Regions from separate parts of the Homo sapiens genome. Here region 1 is linked to region 2. Evidence: fine-mapped expression QTL. A gene starts in region 2. The other region holds a variant in brackets. All regions are shown on one strand. Distances are from middle to middle. Region 1 overlaps NECAB2 (N-terminal EF-hand calcium binding protein 2). Region 2 holds the start of NECAB2 (N-terminal EF-hand calcium binding protein 2).

Region 1 (9,294 bases), 31 kb before region 2:
GGGCCAACCATGTGATTTATGGTGGGGTGTTGAGCCATGAGGTGTCAGCGTGTATGCGTCACCGAACCCCAGTAAGACTCAGGACTGCATCCCTGATTGGTGATGCTCTATCAGCATTGAAGCTGGGAGGGTTCAGTGCTATGGGCCTTTACTGGTAGCCCCGTGCCTGGCCCCCCACTCCGGGAGCCTCTTTCTTTGCTGGATTTTGTCTGTCTGTCTGTCATCTACCTACCTTGACCGTGACTTTGACAGTTGTGCCCAGTCCTTTGAATTACTGACCTGAGGGTAGGTGTGGTGCTGAGCTCCTGAATAGGCATGAGCCTAGTTCCCAAATACCGCATAGAGTGACCACCACCATTTCATGGTTCAGAAAACTGAGGCTGGGAGCACTTGAAGGGTCCCTGGCCCCCTGCTGTTGTCAACCAGGAAACAGACACAGAGCACACAGCTCTTCCCAACCAGGGTTTATTTGGCGCCTGGGCACAGTGGTGGCTACCTGGCTAGGTTGGGCACTACAGGGGCATGACTCCTACTAGGTAGAAGAATGTCACCGAAGAGGGCAGGGTGTGGTCAGTGTGGGTCATGCGTGGCCATGTGAGGGGTAGGGGAGAGGCCAGGACCAGGAGGCAGGGGTGCTGGCTCCAGGAAGCCGCCCCCTTCAACCTTGGGCTTCACCAGGACCTGGCAGCACAGACACTGCTCTGCCTTCTCAGGTGGGGGCAGGGGCGGCCTCCTTCACTTAACAACAGGGAAACACCTTCTTGTGGAGGATGGATTGAAAAGAAGCTTCTGCACCAAAGTGTCTGTCTAGAAAAAAACGGGATTTCCTTCACAAGAAGAAGGGGCTGGTGGGCTCCTCCACGGGCCTCTGGGAGGCTGTCAGTCCCGTCCCACCGTGCACCAAGCAGCTAAAAGGAGAGAGACACGTTAGAGGGAAGGAGTGCGAATGTGGGCAGCCTCGTAGCTGGTGGTGGTCGTCTTGAATGACAGGTCGGGGGATGGCTTTGAGTCCTTGTGTGACACACAGGTCCTTGCTGGTCACCCAGGTGCAAACCACACACCTGGGAAGGGAAATTCAGTCTGGCTGGAAGTAGGGGGCCGTGGAGGGGGTGCTCTGGTGCAAGCTCTGGCAGGCATACCTGTATGTGGGGCCACCTCAGGGCTGGCTCTGAGCCTGGCATTGGTGGCAGGAGCTGACAGTGGGCCCACAGCAAGCAGGCAAGTCCCCGGGAGATATGGGGCAGCCTCTAGGCTCTTGCCCTTCTCTCCAGTCAGGTGGCCACTGCAGTTCCAGGCCTTTGCCCCCTACCTGGCACCAAGATCCTGGAGAGGGCCTCAGGCTGGCTCAGTGTGTCCACCTTGACGTGCCGGAACGCCTTACACAGGGGGCTCTGCAGGTGCCTGTGACGCAGGGACATGTGTGAGTCAGGGGTGGCAGGAGTGGAGCTCCGCGTGTGGCTCCCCTGTTAATCCTAGCTCTAGCCCAAAATGGGGAGCTTATCAATAAGCACGGGGGGTCTTTGGACTCAGAGCCTTTGTGGGAAGGTGAGGGGGTGCCCAGGGAGGCTGACTCTGGGGTGGGCAGTGAGCTTCTCTTTTTCCCTGTGAGCTATAAATGGGCAGCGGGATCCCCCCACTCATTGCACAGAGCCTCTACCTCCCCCTTTACCCTAGCAGGAGGAGTGGGGCCATCCTCTGCCTGGGACCCATGACAACACAGAAGCTGCGAAGGCTTTTAGTCCCTCGTTTTATGAGTCACTGAAGTACGGACAGGGAGGGGACACTCTCACTTCTCATGACCGCCCCTGTTCCCACTGGGGTCCTGAGTTTGTCAGCAAACCGTGAGTGTTTACCAGGGAAGCAGGAGATGGGGGCATGGGCTACCCCTAGGCCCCGCTTCCTGCCTGTGGGGTCTGGCGCATCAGCAATAGTCTCCACCCTCTCCCAGATGTGTGCTGAGCAGAGGACAAAGGCCTAAGGCCCATCAGAGCTGCTGACACCCTACCCCATCTCCGTCCCTCGTACCGGGCACTCAGCTGGAGGGGAGGTTAGTCGCTGGAACAATTGATCACATGGGGACTGAGTCACCTTCTAGGTTAGGCCCTCAACTCTACAGGGTGGTAAAGAAGGCAGTGCCTCGGCCCCCAGGGCTGTTCCAGGAGGACAAGGTGCTCTAGGGGCACAGAAGCAACCCTGGGGAAAGCAGGAAAGCCCAGCTGAGTGTGGTGGGGGCTCTCACTACCCACCAAGAGCTCCTGCCTCCACCAGGGTTTACTGACGCAAGCATGCCAGCGGGTAGATGCCTCGGGAATCTGCTGACTGGACTCGGCCTTACCCTCCCCTCCAAGGATGCCTGGCTCCAGGAAGACAGCCCCCCCACTTCCCTCTGTCTCCCTCACCTGCTGTGGGGACCCAGCATCTCACCTCTTCCACGCCTCCTCTGTCTCCCAGAACTCATAGATGACAAAGGTGAAGCCATCTGAGAGCCTCACGGCAGTGATGCTGCAACAGGAGATGGTCGGGGGGAGGAGGCTGGAGCTCAACCAAGGCCACCTCAGTGCTGTTCCCCTGGGGTGGCCTGAGACCCACCACTATACACAACGGCTGCCTTCAATGTTTCTTCCTGTCTTGACCTCCATCGAGACTCGACAGGGTGACCCCAGCACAGGGAATAAGGCCTGGCTTCTTATAGTGGCCAACAGCTATTTATTAAATAGAATCAATGCAGTGTAGTTTTTCTTTTGAGATAGGGTCTCACTCTGTTGCCCAGGCTGGAGTGCAGTGGCACAATCACTTCAGCCTTCCAAGTAGCGGGGACTAGAGGAGTGCACCACTCGGCCTAATTCAAAAACTGTCCCAATAGAGATGGGGTCTTGCTATGTTCCCCATGCTGGTCTTTAACTCCTGGGCTCAGGCTGTCTTCTCACCTTGGCTTCCCAAAGTGCCAGGATTGCAAACTTCAGCCACTGTGCCCAGCTGAAATGTCATGTTAAAGTGTGAACATTTATTTAAACAAAACCAGGTGGCTGGATGTGATGGTTCACGCCTGTAATCGCAGAACTTTGGGAAGTCTTGAGGGGTCGAGGCAGGTGGATTACGTGAGGTCAGGAGTTCAAGACCAGCCTAGCCAACATGGCAAAACACTGTCTCTTTAAAAAAAAAAAAAATAAAACTTGCTGGGCCTGGTGGCACATCCCTGTAATCCCAGCGATGCAGGACACTGAGGCATGAGACTCATTTAAACCCTCTGGTGAGAGGTTGCAGTGAGCTGAGCTTCCACTACTACACACTCACTCCTGCCTGGACAATAAAGCAAGATTTGGTCTCAAAAAACCTTTAAAAATCAAAAAACCTTTAAAAATCAAAGCATCTTCCCTCTTCTTCCTTCTACTTGTCCTCTCATTTAATCCTTGCAACACCCCCACTGCACTGTACCTGACCTGACCAAAGGAGGCTGAGGGGAGGGGGTGCTGGGCCACAGAGGAAGGGGCTGCAGGCAAGTCCCCCATTGCTCTATGGGACCCAGGGGCCCGCACTCACGTCATTTTAAAGGTGCTGATAGTCTATGCCGCCCCAGAATCCTCTCTGCAAGTGCACTACAATGAGGAAGCCCCAAGTGACCATAAAGCGGGGGCCAAAAGCTGGGGAGGAGGGGCTACAGTGCTCAGCCTAGAGGAAGGGGCCGGGCTGGATTCCATCTTGGGGTGGACACACCTCCGTGCAGCTTTAGGTGCACCATGCCTGGGAAGTAGAATCTCACCTGGCTCTCCAGGCTTGCCGTCTCCAACTCGACAAACCAGAGCCTCTACGTCCACCGTGCCTCCTCTCCACAGCGCATCGGGGTGGCCCTACTTCACCCTGGAGCCTCCCACTTATTCACGTAATGGAAAAAGATCAAGTCTGGCCCCTGCTCCTGTGCAGTCTGTCCTCCTGGAGTGGAGTGGGTCCTGCCCCCCCATCCTGGCTACTTACTCAAGAATGGCCCCTCGTGGCCACGCCGAGTCTCGGGAACGGCCGCACTCCTGCCCAGGCTACTCCTCCCCTCGTGCTACAGGTCAGGCTGTTGTCACTCAAGCCTCAGTGCACAGGGGGCCCAAGAAGACCCCTCTCAAAGACCCTGTGCTAGGACCTGGCCTGCCTGGTTCACAGCCATGTCCCCAGGCAATGGGGTGAATGAGTGTGTGCTCTGGGGATGGAAGAAAGCCCTGGGAAGGGAGTTGGGCAGAGCCTTGCTGCAGAAACGGGGGGCGGGGGACCACTACCAGCAAGAACAAAGGGCTGTTGTCTTCTGCAACCCCCTCCACTCTGGCCCTGGCCACATGCCTTAGCTTTACCAAGGAGCTACATCAGCCTGGTGGGATGAACAGGAATTTGAAGGTAAGGCCGCTTGCCCCGCCCTGGACATCTCAGCACATCAGGGGGAGAAGGGCAACTACATGACTTGGGCATTTCCCTTCAGCTACCGACTCTCCTCTCCTTCCTCAGTGGTTAACTGAGCAAATACTACATTCTGGGCCTGGACTTAAGTGTGCAGGAACCCCTGTGACAGCAGCAGCTGAGGCTGACTGAGCGCACGGGGCACACCAGGCCCAGCTGGAGCCCTTCACACTTGAGATTCACACACTTGATTGTATATGCACTCATGATCACCCCAGCAAGGAGTCCTGGGGGTGGTCCCCCCTTTACAGATGAGTAAGCTGATGCCAGGGAGATGAAGACACCTGCCACATTTGCTTGGCTGGGAGGAACCTCAGTAGAGACCTGAACCCACTTCTTACGCATCCAGCTGTGTGTGTCCCTGGGGTGCAACTTGTACTACTTAGGGCAAAGCCTAGTCCTGCCCTGTTCCTCCACTGCCAGGCAGAGCTCCCTGCCACCATCCCACCCACGCCTCGGCAGCTCACTCACTGGAAGCAGTTCCTCACGCCAGTGGTCCCCCGCAGATACTGGCGCAGAGAGTCCAGAAACTCGCTCAGTTGCTCGGGGCACACGGCCATCTCCTGCCGGACCAGCTGCAGGTGCTGCCGGGCACAGCAGGAGTCAGTGTGGGGCTCCACGTCAGGCCTTCTCCCTAAACACCCCATCAGGCCCCCATGACCTCCCTTCCTCGGTCAAAATAAAATAACCCTCCCCCACTTTTCATTCTTACCCATGAATGGATAAGAATGGACTAAAAATGGGCTAAGAAAGGACTAGAACCTCAAGAGCCCAGTGCAGAAGTAGCCCCCAAAAATGGGGAAAACAGACGAGGTTGTTTACAGAGGCCCCATCCATGTCCACAACCACCTGCACAGCCTCCAGGGCCTGGAGACACAGCACATCCACTGACAAGAAAAACTCATAGTTGATGGACTCAGCATTTTCACATCACTGTC[T/C]GGCTGATCACTTTGCTCTATGCCAAACCTTTTTTGGATCAAAGTCCAGGAGCCTCTGGGCCAGGTGTGGTGGCTCACGCCTGTAATCTCAGCACTTTAGGAGGCCAAGGTGGGCAGATCATGAGGATAGGAGTTTGAGACCAGCCTGACCAACATGGTGAAACCCTGTCCGTCTCTACTAAAAATACCAAAAAAATTAGCCAGGCGTGGTGGCACACACCTGTAATCCCAGCTACTCAGGAGGCTGAGGCAGGAGAATTGCTTGAACCCAGGAGGCAGAGGTTGCAGTAAGCCGACATCCCACCACTGCACTCCAGCCTGGGAGATACAGCAAGACTCCATCTCAAAAAAAAAAAAAAAAAAAAAAAAAAGGTCCAGGGAGCCTCAAGAAATACCCCCGGAGTTGGTGGGGTGGCTCCTGTGCCAGGGCAGGGTCTGGGTGCCAAGCGCTGGGCGACATCTCCCCTCCTGGTGGTCCCAAGCAGGGAGAGCGGGGTCAGGGGCATTGAGCCACTTGGATCTTGGCAGTCCTGGCATGGGTAGGGATGTGGTCCCAGAAGAGAGGTGGGAAGGGGCCTCACCATGTTGGTGCCATCTTCATCTGACAGGCGCTGCTGCAGGTCGAACCACAGTGCCTGAAACAATCCAGCACACAGTGATGCTAGACCCAGAGCCCCACTCCGCCCCGGGGAGCCAGGAGCTCTGGGATCCCTGGGGCTGTTGGGAGCTCCCAAGGACCCGGCCCTGTTGCACAGGGCTGGGAGACCAACGCTAGGAAGTGGCAGAGACTCCCTCTGGCCTACAGGGGGCCTAGAACATGTTGCTGGGGTGAGGATGGCTTGGGAGAGGCAGCAAGGGGGACTCCAGAGGCCTGAGTCCAAGATGCTGGGGTTTGCCACTATGATGAGCAACAGCCCTTAGATTCCCTGTAACTTATAATTCACCCCAAATCATAACCCCCAGCACCTCAGGGATCTAATGGGGTGAACTGTTCTCTCTGGTCTTCCCCAGACTCTAAGCTAGATGGTTTACAAATACACAATCTTCCAGACTCCCCAGGGAAGGTGCTGCCCCACTGTAAGTTTCGGTCTCCAGGAACCACATCTGCTCTGTTCGCCCACGACTGGTGCCCACACAGGGCTGAGCCCCCACAGAAGATCAACAGTCACTATGTCACGGCAGAGAACCCCGGCTCTGAAGGCACGAAAGCCATGTAAGTGTCAGAGCGTGGGTCTGAACCCAGTGTGTCTACCTGACGCACAGGCTCATGCTGCTGCTTCCTTCAGCTTGGGCACCCCACTAACCACCTCTGTGGCTATCTCTGTCCATCCTCCATGAGGACAGACCATCTACGGGAGTCACACAGGGCAGCCACAGGTAAAGCACGCCAGCTAATAAGGAAAACAGCAGCAGGTGGATGAGTCTGTGTAGTCACCACCGTGACGTTCTAAATGTTTGAGCAAGGGACCTTGCACGCTCATTTTGCACTGGGCTCTGTAGTAGCTGATCCTGGCAAGGGTACTGCCTTCTGGGGGCACACAGCATGAACACGCCTTGGTAAGTGGTGAAGGTGTGCCTGGCAGGAACAAGTCTGTTTCCATGGTTTTACAAGCATACGTGAGGGGTCCTGGGGCTGGAAAAGCCATAGGAGGATGAGGAGAGGCACTGTGGCCCCTGTATCTGCCCCATTCTTCTCCCAGCCAGGGGCCCCTAGAGCCTCCATCCTTCCAGCCCAGAGGCAGCTCCGGTTGGCCGGTGAAGGGCGGGGCCTGAAGCCAGGCCCGGATTGGCCCCTGCTGACCGCCCGGGCCAGTTAGAGGCTGGGGAGGAGGACCTGGTCCCACCCCGTCTCCAGGACGCCCAGGTACTCCGTGGTTACCAGCCAGCCTGGTTGTTAGGGCGACGGTGCTCTAAAAATAAGCTTCAGAGTCTCCCTCCCGAGGCGCCCGCTGAGTTGTTATGACAACCGGGCCACGGGGTCCCCTCCGAGCCGCTCCCGCAGCTGGCTTCAGGAAGGGGGTAACTCCACCTCAGCCTCATCCCTGCAGGAGGGGAAGTTTGAGCTTCCTCCCTCGGACTTCATTCCACGTCAGCCTCTGTCTCCCTCCATGCGGGGAGCCCCTTGTTCCTGCCCCCATGAATGCCTGAGAACCCCCAAACTAAAAGTAGCAATACCCTTTACAAAGGGTGTAAAAAAAATACACAAAAGTAGGAGAAACATAAAACCACCTCAATCCCAGGGTTCTGAGAGCTCAGTTACCTTGGCTTATGTGGGTATACGGGTGTGCTGTGTGCATGTGGATAGGTTTGGGTAACAGAATGCCTCATAATAATTGCTAACATTGCTAATATTAAATGCAAGCTACAGCACCGGGCCCTGTGCTAAACCGGAGACATCATTTTGGTTCATCCTAACGACACCCCTATGAGGGAGGGGTCCCATGCTCCAGGTTATTTTCTTGATTATCAGAGGAGGAATCTAAGCCTCAGAGAGGACAAGTCCCTGGCCCAGGGTCACACAGCTATGAAGTGGCACAACCAGAATTCTGACTGATACCTGAGCCCATCTGTCTGTAGGCCCTAAGACAAACTTTTCTTTCCACCAAATGGTCATATTGTGAGCACTCTATCCCGAGTCACGAAACATTATCTGAAAATGTTTTCTGTAAGGGCTGTGCCATTTTCTATCACCTGTGGACGTCCCATATCACACTTAATACATTTGCTACTGCTGGTCACTTCCTTCCTTGTTTTGAAACTCTCTCGAATCATCACGTCTCTCTTTCATCCTGGTGCTGCCTTTCGGCCAATATCTGCTCCAGCCACTTCAGAGCAAAGTCTCCTTGAAGCTAGGGCCTTGCAACACGGGACCCTGCTGACCACCCTCTGCTCCTGGAGCTGCTCCTGCTGCCTGCAGGCCCGCCTGACCCCCCAACACTCTCTCTTCCCAGGCGCCCCTCCTTGGGCCTGAACAACACGAGCATCCCCCGGGGTTTGATCCTTAGCTTCGTCCTCGGCAGCTCCACGCCCCACCTGGGGGATGTCTTTTTCATGGTTCCCTGGCCCCTCTGCAGCCCAGACTTTTGTCCTGAACTCCAGGCTTAACTCTGCACTCCCTCAGGGGTTGGAAGGAGTAGACGCCGTGGTCAGGCCAGGGCTTACTTTGCTCTCCAGCCTCCCAATCAGCTCTGCCAAGCGGCTGATCTGGGCTTCCAGACCCTCTTCCTTTGCATCCTCCGTGGCTGCGGTAGAGAAAGAGACACACAGACTTCAGTGGTGGGCAGGACGAGGGCTTCGGGGGGAAGCTGGAAACATCCAGCCCCTCCAGGGGCATCAAACTTGCTCATCTCCCCAGTCCCTGTCAGAGGACTCTCAGAACTCCTCGGGACCCCCAGCTGGTACCCCCACCAGGGCCCCCGCTTTCTCTCACCAGATGGAAGGGTCTTGCCTTGTTCCATAGCCATGAGCTTGTGGTTGGGGGCAGAGGCGGGAGTGGGGCTTCCACACCAGGTCTGTGCCGCGCTGTGGCTGGGTTTGATGTGGTTCTGTCTGCAGTTTGGATGGGAACACACACAGACCATGGCGGTGGCTTCAGGGCCCTTACCACTTCCAGCATCTTCCACAGGCATTTATTACGCAAGACAGTGGACTCACACATGCACAGAACTTGCATCATGGCCTTTGTTTTGACAGAGGAGGAAATGAGGTTCTTAAAGCAGGTGACTCAGCCAGGGCCACGCAGCTAGCTGGGCAGAGCTGGGATTCGAATTCAGCTCCATTCTAGGACCCCACGGCCTAGGCCTTTTCCCCAAGAGATTCAGTTCCAGAGTGAGGCTGAGCCAGGGACCCACCCCCACTCTAACAGCTCGAAGCTTTCGGGCACGTGTAGAGCCCAAGCTGTGGAGTGACCAAGTCCCCC
Region 2 (9,070 bases):
AGCCACGGGCAGGACTGCGTTAATTTTGGGGTGCAGGAGGAGAAACAGGACGCCAAGAGTTCAGAAAAGCAGCCGCAGACGAAGTTCCGGCTGCATTAGGCAGGGATGGGTGGAGGGCAGCTCCAAGGCTGGCCTGAACCTACAAGACCAGGTGCCTCCTCGTTCTGCCTTTCCAGTGACATCTGAATCCGTGGGACAGAGCTGCTCCCCTTTCCTCAAGGTCTGGCTGGCAGGTGCTGCTTGCCAGGCTGAGGCTCGAAGGCAGCTTTCCGCCCCTTCCAACACCATCGCCTGGAGAGCTTTCAAAACCTCCTCAGCCCGGGCCACACCCCAGGGTGACTGAATCAGCTGCTGTGAGGCCCACTCTGATTTCAGCATTTTTAAAGCCTCCCAGGCCCAATGTTGACACCTGTGCGCTAAGACCTTGCTATTCACAGGAGCTGTTTGGGTCCTGCAGGAGCTTGTTTGCAATGCAGGATGTCCCACCTACTCTGCACTGTAGTGGAGTCAGACCTTTCACTGTAACCAGTTCCCACGGGGACTGATTCACCAGCACTATTTTTTTTTTTTTTGAGATGGGGTCTCGCTCTGTCACCCAGGCTGGAGTGCAGTGGCGCGATCTTGGCTCACTGCAACTTCTGCCTCCCGGGTTCAAGCAATTCTCCTGTATCAGCCTTCCGAGTAGCTGGGACTACAGACGCCCGCCATCACAACTGGCTAATTTTTGTATTTTTTAGTAGAGACGAGGTTTCACCTTGTTGGTCAAGCTGGTCTCGAACCCCTGACCTCAGGTGATCCACCCGCCTCGGCCTCCCAAAGTGCTGGGATTACAGGCGTGAGCCACGGCGCCCTGCCCACCAGCACTTTAAAGCCTGAGAAGGATCCCAGCTTCTGCGGTGGCCCCCACCCCAATCTCAGTGGCTTGTTTTAACAAGGAGGGTACTGAGACCCAGGGAGAGGCAGCAACATGTACACATTTCCCGACACCAGGGAGGGCTGCTGGGGCCAGGTCAGCCATGGAGGAGGAGGAGGTAATACTCACTCTGACCCTTCCACCCTCTGTCCTCGCCTTGGGGTAAAGGACAGATGCCCTCGCCCCCCATCCCTCCAGGCAACGAGAAAGGGGGCACCCTTGGTCATTTCTAGGCACCTGGGCGGTGAGACTGAAGCACAGCTATGGGAGGGCCTCTCAAACATCACCCCTCCTCCTGGCTGAACCTCAGATCCCCAAGCCCTCCTCAAAGATCCAGCCTGGGCACCCCGCAGCCCCGTTCCTGACTGGGCAAGGCTCCTCAAAACTGGGGTCCCTATCTGGGTGTCCCAGATCCCCCTTGAGGCCAGGCACCAGGTAGGTGCCGGCTCTGGGCAGGAATGCTGAACACATGAGTGACATGGCAGGGCTGACACCTGGTAATGTCAGCCAGCTCCAGGAGTCTGCATGAGCACCTCCCGCCCCACCCCCCGCTCATCACTCCTTTTGGCAGGTGAGGAGATGGAACCTCAGAGCCCCCACCCTGACTGGGCAGGGCTTCCATGCAGGGCAGCTTGGGGCTGCAGGGCTCTGCCCAGGACTTTCAGTGGGAGCTCTGCGGGGGTCCTGAGGAGGGGATGGTTTGGCTGCATGGGTGTGTCTCTGGCTGTGTGTGCGTGCGTAAGCGAGTGCGTGAGTGTGTGAATGTGTGCCTGCGAGTGTGGCACTCTAGAGCTCCCCCTGCTCTGGCCGGCCCTCCCAGCCCAGACCCCGGCCAAGGGTTCCAGGAGCAGGGAAGAGGAGAGAGGAAGGGAGGGAATCCCCCGACTCACAGGGATCCGCGATACACGCGTGTGCACATTCACACACACCCACCACTCTCCCAGAAATCCACCACACAGGCAGAGGCAGCCCCCAGCCCCACCCCAGCAGGACCCTCGCTGAAACACGCAGTCAACATCCCCAGAAGCCTCCTCCACCTCCTCCTAGCACTCTCTGCTGGGAGAAGTCCTCCTCCTCCGAGCCGCCCCCTGAAGATTCCTCCCTCCCGGGTGGGGCGGGTGGGAGGGTGAGGTGGGCTTCCCAGAGATGGGTGATTTGGGTCCCAGGGGAGTTAGGAGGGGTGAGGGGTGAGTCTGGTCCATGAAGAGGACCCAGCTCTCTGTAGGGTAGAGGGGTGTGGGGAAGGGAACAGAGGACTTGGAATGGAAGGGGGCGGGGTGGGGAAGACCAGAGGGGTACCAGCTCAGGGCTGATGGGCGATGGCTCTGGCTCAATGGAAAGGAGACGAGAAGACAGAAGGTGGGGAGGGGGCTTCACTTTTAAAGTGGCAGTAGCTGGGGCAAAGGGTCTTTGAGCGTGAGATGAACGGGGGCTCAGGGTCTAGGGCGAAGAGAGGTGGGCTAGAGGTAGGGGTTGTTAGGGGTCTCAGAAAAGTATCGCTCCGGACAGGATCCGGGATGGAGAGGAGGAGGCGGCTGGACGCGGCGAGGGGCTCCGGTCCCGCGGGGTAAAGGGTGGGGGTTTGGCTTGGACAAAACTAGGGGGACAGTGGCCGGGTCCGGGGGCTCACGGCTCCCCACTGTGGGCAGGCAGGGACTCCGAGAAGCGCCGGTGGAGGGGCGGAGGAGGGGGGTCTCCCGGTCCAGGGAGAGGACTGGGCTGGAGACCGGCCTGGACGTGGCGGGGCTGGGGGCTCCCGCTCCGGCACGCGGAGGGGCCGGGGGTCTCCTGCCCGGGTAGGGAGGGCCTCGCGGGTCGCGGCGTCGGGGTCCGCCCGAGGGGCGGAGGGGGCTCCGGGTCCCAGCGGAGGCCACGGCGGGGGTCCCGGCCGGCGCGTACTCACGTCCAGGATGACGGCGGTGCCCCCGCGCGGCGAGGCTGGGCCGGGGTCCGCGGGGGCGGCGGGGGCCAGCGACTCCCGGGGCTCGCCCATCCTGGCGCCCACCCAGCGCAGCAGCCCGCCCAGCGCCCGGCCCTGCTGCGGCGGCTCCCGGAGCAGCCTGTGCGCGCCGGCCCTGCACAGGCGCGCCGCCCGCTCGCACATCGCGCCGCGCCCGCCGCCGCCGCCCGGAAGCCCGCCGACCCCCGCCCAGCTGCGGCCCGCCCCCGCGCGACCCCCTCCCCGCGCTGCCCGCGCCGCCCCGCCCTCTCTCCCGCTGCCCCCGCGGCCGCGGACACCGCGGGGACTGGCCGGCGCCGGGGGGCGGGCCGGCCGGACCCCGAGCCACGTGCCCGCTCCCCGCCGCCCCCACCCCCGCCGGCCGGGCGCGGGGCCTGAGGACTGCCCGCCGGGGCGAGGGGCGCGGGCGCAGCCACAGAGGGGGCTACCCGGAGGGGAGGGGTATGTGGGGCCTGGGGGCGGGGCGGCGCCCCTGGGGCCTGCTCCCCAAAAGTCTCCTGCTCTCCCCGCTTCTAAAGTCCCCCCTCCCACTCGCGGCGCGCAGCAGAGGCCGAAGCGCGGGTGTCCAGCGAGCCCGGAGCGCCCTCTGCCGGCTCCAGCCCCGGGGAGCGGCGCCCACGCCCCGCGGCCCCGTCACGCCCGCGGGCGCCCATCCTTAACTCCCGCGGGCGTGCACGCCCCCTCAGGCCGCCCCCTTGGTTACAAAACGCCCAGAACCAGTCTTCACCCCAGAACATCTTTCCTTCATACTCCATCCACCCATCCATCTATCCACCCACCCACCTGTCCGTCCATCCATCCATCCATCCATCCACCTGCCTACCCGTCCATCAATCCATCTATACATCCATCCACCCATCCTCCCATCCATCCATCCGGCCGGCCGACTGTCCGTCCATCCATCCACCCACCCTCCCAACCATTCATCCATCCATCCATCCACCCACCCAGCATCCTCCCATCCATCCATCCATTCACCCACCCACTCATCCTCCCTCCCTGGCATCCATCCATCCACCCTCCATCCATCCATCCATCCACCCTCCCATCCATCCATCCATCCATCCATCCATCCATCCATCCATCCGTCCATCCATCTGCCCGCCCGCCCATCTGTCTGTCCATCCACCCACCCACCCTCCCATCTATCCATCTATCCACCCCCCTACCCTCTCATCCATCCATCCATCCACCCACCTACACACCCTCCCATCCATCCACCCACCATCCTTCCATCCATCCATCTATCCTCCCTCCCTCCCATCCATCCATCCATCCTCCCTCCCATCCATCCACCCACCCACCCACCCCCCTCCCTCCCATCCATCCATCCATCCATCCACCCACCCACCATCCTCCCATCCATCCAACCATCCTCTCATCTATCCATCTGTCCACCCACCCACCCATCCTCCCATCCATCCATCCACCCATCCATTTAAAAGATGAATTAAGGAGAACCCACTAGGTGCCAGGCAGGTGCCCAACCACGGAGTTCCAGCAATGGGCAAAACAGATGGTGTACTTGGTCTCCCAGAGCTCCTGGAGCTTACATCCAAGTGGGCAGAGCCAAACACTGAAATGATTCCACAAACAAATGAACAATTAAAACTGAACTGCTGGAAGGGTGTGGTGGCTCATGCCTGTGATACCAACACTTTGGGGAGCCAAAGAGGGCGGATCACTTGAGGTCAGGAGTTCAAGACCAGCCTGGCCAACATGGTGAAACCCCGTCTCTATTAAAAATACAATAACTAGCTGGGCGAGGTGGCAGTCACCTGTAATCCCAGCTACTTGGGAGGCTGAGACAGGAGAATCATTTCAACCCAGAAGCAGAGGTTGTAGTGAACCAAGCGCCACAGCACTCCAGCCTGGGTGACAAAATGAGACTCTGTCTCAAAAAAAAGAAAAAAAAACTGCACTGCTATGAAAAGGTAGCACCTTAGACCATGAAAGGAGTATTTGCTGTGACGGCAGTGGAGGGGTTTGTGTCAGAAGAGGCTTCCTAGAGGAAGTGATTCTTATGCTGAGACATCCCAAGGAAAAGGAGTTAAAGAAAGGCGGGAAACTGTCCTGGGCTGGGGACTCTCTGTGCAAAGGCCTTGGGGCAGGCAGAGACCTGGCCAGCAGGAGGGACTGAAAGGAGGCCGCATGGCAGAACAGAGAGGAGGGAGGCCTGGGACAGGCTGCGGAGGGGGCGGGGCTGCAGCGCCCTCCTGGACATCACTGCCTGCACACACCCGCCACTCCCACCCCCAGACTCTAGTACAGCTGCCCGCTCAACTGCCCCCACACTTGGGGCACCATCCTTTGTACCCCAAGGCCCCAGCCATGGACCTCATCCAGGACCACATGCCCCAGGACTCCTCCCACAATCCCCTTTCCTCCCTTCCCCCCAGCCCAGTGCAGGGTTCCGGGAACGCAGCTCCCTCCGAGCACAGAGTCCTCAGACGCATGAGAGCAGGTGGGCACTGGCTTTATTTGGGACCTGCTTCTGGAAGGCGCAGGGCTGCAGGTCTCCTGGCTGGGTGCTCAGCTGGTCACACCAGCAGCTTTCCCCACAAATCCCAGGTCTAGGCCAACCCTGGCCTGCGGCCGCTGTTACCACCTCAGACACTGGTCTAAGTCCAGGGCAGCCTGGGATCCCTACTCCTCTTGACCCCAAAGGCCAGCAACGTGGGCTGACACCCCTCCCCGGGGCATCTTTGGACGGGTCCTGCATCCAGCAGGGATGTGGTCATCTCTGTCCTCTCAGGGCCTGGGAGCCAGCGGGTCTGGCCGAGTGTTAGGGTGGCTTCCTGGTCTCCTTCCTTAGCAGGGAGCTGGCCACAGCCAAGGCGCCCCCCTGCACAAACCTCACGAAGTTGTCCCCGGCCAGCGGCCCCATGGCGTACAGGCCCTCCTGGCGGGTGCTCTGGTAGGTGAAGGGGTCCACGTCAATGGGGTTCCTCTTGGCGCTCAGCGGCTGGTCAGGATCCACTGCAAAGTCAGCCCCTGCCCCAGGCAGGAAGGAGAGGTCGGGGTGGGAGCCGATGAGGACCAGCACCAGGGAGACCCCAAACACCTTCTCGACACCCTCGAGGTCCTGGAACACGGCCTGGCAGTCTTCCTTGAAGCACAGCAGCTGGTGCCTGGGGAGGCTGCGGTAACCCTCATAGGGGCTGGGCGACAGGATGGACTGCTCCCGCATCATCTGGTGCACCTTGTGGTACTCGGGGTACAGCATCTTGGGCAGCTGGTTGAACACCAGGCCAGGGTCGTCCACGGCCCGGCGGAAGGCATGGATCACCGGGATGTTGTAGTGGCGGGCGTAGAGGACCGCGTCGGCCGCTGACAGCCCCGCGCCAATGATGAGGACAGGGTCTGAGGCCGGGGTCACCGCACCCACCCTTGTGGCGGCCTCCAGGGCAGACAGCTCATGGTGGATGAAGGGCAGGGCCTCCCCGGGGATGCCCAGCCGGGCCGGGCTGTCGAACGTGCCTGTGGCGAGGACCACGTTGCGGGCCCACAGCGAGAAGGGCTGCTGGGCCTGGTTCCTGGTCAGGAAGCCGCTCACCTGGAAGAGGGGGCTGGAGTCCTGGGCCCCACAGCTGCTGGGATCGGGGGTCCCCCACTCCACGGCTGTGACTACAGCACCGGACACAAAGTTATGCCCCAGACCCTTCTTGACCACGTAGTCCCTGTAGTAGTGGGCGATGTCCCCGGCAGTGGCCCGGCTGTTGCGAAGACCTCTGTTGGGGAGGATGCAGGACGCCAGAGTCAGACACTGTTAGGGGTTGGGGGGCTGGGTGGGACGGGAGATGTCCAGGGCAGTGTCAGGCCCTGGAGCTGGACTAGGCTGTAGCTGTAGGACTAGGCCAGGTAATTCAACCTCTCTAAGCCTCAGTCTCCTCTTCTGTAAAATGGAGCTAACAAGGGTGCCTCCCTCAGGAGAGGTGGTGTAGGGTGGTGTAGGATGCTCTAGGGTGGTGTAGGGTGGGGTTCAGAGGGCAGCCTCCAGAGCCCCGCTGCCTGGGCTCGAATCCTGACTCTGCCATCAGGGAGCTGTGTCTGTTTCCCCAGTTTGCAAAATGAGGAAGATGTTGGTGGCAGGACCTATTTCGTGAGGTCGTGGGGAGGATTTGGTGAGCTGACAAACACAAAGTGCTTAGGATGGAACCTGACTGGAAGTAAGTGCCATGTAAGGATAGGCCACCATGATTGTCACCTCAAATGATTAAATATGGTATGATTCCATTTTTACAGAGTTCAGAAACAGGCAGAACTCATCTATGGAGCTGGATGTCAAGAGAGGGGTTACCTCCGGGGATGGGGAATGGGATCCTGATCAGAAAGGGCATGGGGGCTTCTGGGAGGGGGCCTGCTTCTTCATTCTCTGTGCTTACCTTGAGAAATTTCATCAACCTGTACTCACAGGAGTTACGTACTTTTCTATATGTAGCCAATTTATTATTTTATTTTATTTTATTTTATTTTATTTTAATTTTTTGAGACAGAGTCTCACTCTGCTGCCCAGGCTGGAGTGCCGTGGTGTGATCTCAGCTCGCTGCAGCCCCTGCCTCCCGGGCTCAGGTGATTCTCATACCTCGGCCTCCTGAGCAGCTGGAACTACAGGCATGCAGCGCCATACCTGGCTAATTTTTGTATTTTTATTAGAGATGGGGTTTTGCCATGTTGGCCAGGATGGTTTCGAACTCTTGACCTCAAGTGATCCACCAGCCTCGGCCTCCCAAAGTGCTGGGATTACAGGCTTGCGCCACCGCACCCAGCCTATATGTAGTCAAAAAGTTGATTTAAAGTTGATTTAAAGACTCCCATGTGACGCACTCACCATCGTTCCCAGCCCACGCAGCAGCAGGAGGTATTCTATTATTGTTGTTGTTGTTTGGATTGTCACTCTTTCCAGGGGCAGTGACTGCAGGCCCATTCTTGTGGCGGTTGAATGACAGGCTTTGCATCATTCTAGCACCTTCCTGTATCTCACTGTGTGACCTTAGATGAGTTAATCTACCCAGCTTGTGGGCTCATGGTTCAAGATGAACTCCCATACGGGAGAATCCTGTGCCACCTGCCGTCCGGCTACATGTAGCAGGAGCTGACAATGGACCCCCAAGGCCGTGCCAGTCAACCCAGCGCAGCCCGTCTGCGACCCTGGAATTTATCTCTGTGGGCAGTCATTCTTTTCTCAGTTTTTGTAAAGATTGTGACACAGAACGGTCCCAAGAGCATGTTCTGTGCAGAGTTATTTATAATAATGACACAATGGAAAGAATGAATGCTCCAGGGCTGGCAGGGGCTGGGTAACCTTGGCAGTGCCATGAGGCAGGGGGTGTGTCTGCGGTGGTTTTGTGCTCTGACGTCTAAGCCCAAGGCCTGGCACATAATAAGCATTCGGTGAAGATTTGCTGGACTGGGGATGCTCACTCGCCTTTGGGAATATTGTGAGGCCATGTAAAAGGATGGTTTTGAACGCTGTGACTTCACCACATGAAACGCTTGGGATACAATGTGAAAATGCAAAATGAGCCTATAAAAGGCTGTGCTTACAAGCGAAATGTAAGTTTCTGGCTGCCTACTAACATGTAGCTACACAAACCTGGAAGTCTTCCTGCCAAACATGCAGAAGAGTCTTCGCATCAAAGAGATAGTGAGGCCTGGAGGGGGACGCCTGGAGTGCCTGCCGTTGGGGACACAGGCCTGGTCACAGCCCTGGGGGCGGAGGAAGCAGGGCTTCCCGAGAGGCAGACTGCACCCAGGTATCTGCGCTGGGGCAGCTTCTCATTGAGTGGATGCACCCCAGGAGGAGCAGGGACTAGAACTCCTTTATTCAGTGATTGAAACTGTGAGAGGCAAATCAATCTTGGGGCCCCCAAATCACTAAGTTAAAGGAAAAGTCAAGCAGGGAACTGCCTAGGGCAAAGCTGCCTCCCGTCCTACTCAAAGTCTTCCCTCTGCCCACTGAGATAAATGCACACCTGATTGCCTCCTTTGGAAAGGCTTATAAGAAACTCGAAAGAATGCAACCGTTTGTCTCTCACCTGTCTGAGACCTGGAAACACCCCTCCCTGCTGGAGTTGTCCCGCCTCTGGACGGAACCAATGTCCATCTTACATATAGTGATTGATGTCTCAAGTCTCCCTAACGTATACAGCCAGGCTGTGCCCCGACCACCATGTGTACATGTTATCAGGACCTCC

Evidence for each region.
Region 1: its variant is fine-mapped to the expression of NECAB2 in whole blood (TOPMed, PIP above 0.99).

What each region holds. Positions count from the first base shown.
Region 1 is chr16:83,993,932-84,003,225 of GRCh38, reverse strand. It overlaps NECAB2 (N-terminal EF-hand calcium binding protein 2), which reads right to left. Exons shown (of 13, transcript NM_019065.3): 7 at 8,806-8,924; 8 at 8,538-8,617; 9 at 5,957-6,010; 10 at 4,909-5,021; 11 at 2,425-2,502; 12 at 1,310-1,401; 13 at 450-908. The coding sequence ends at 880. Among named protein-coding and RNA genes, the nearest start is that of NECAB2, 30 kb to the right of the region's middle. RefSeq lists an enhancer at 120-902 and a silencer at 7,181-7,240. The variant T/C (reference allele first, on the strand shown) is at 5,376.
Region 2 is chr16:83,962,596-83,971,665 of GRCh38, reverse strand. It overlaps NECAB2 (N-terminal EF-hand calcium binding protein 2), which reads right to left and starts at 3,422. Exons shown (of 13, transcript NM_019065.3): 1 at 2,817-3,422. The coding sequence starts at 3,017. It overlaps OSGIN1 (oxidative stress induced growth inhibitor 1), which reads right to left. Exons shown (of 6, transcript NM_182981.3): 6 at 5,334-6,604. The coding sequence ends at 5,659. RefSeq lists a silencer at 3,357-3,546.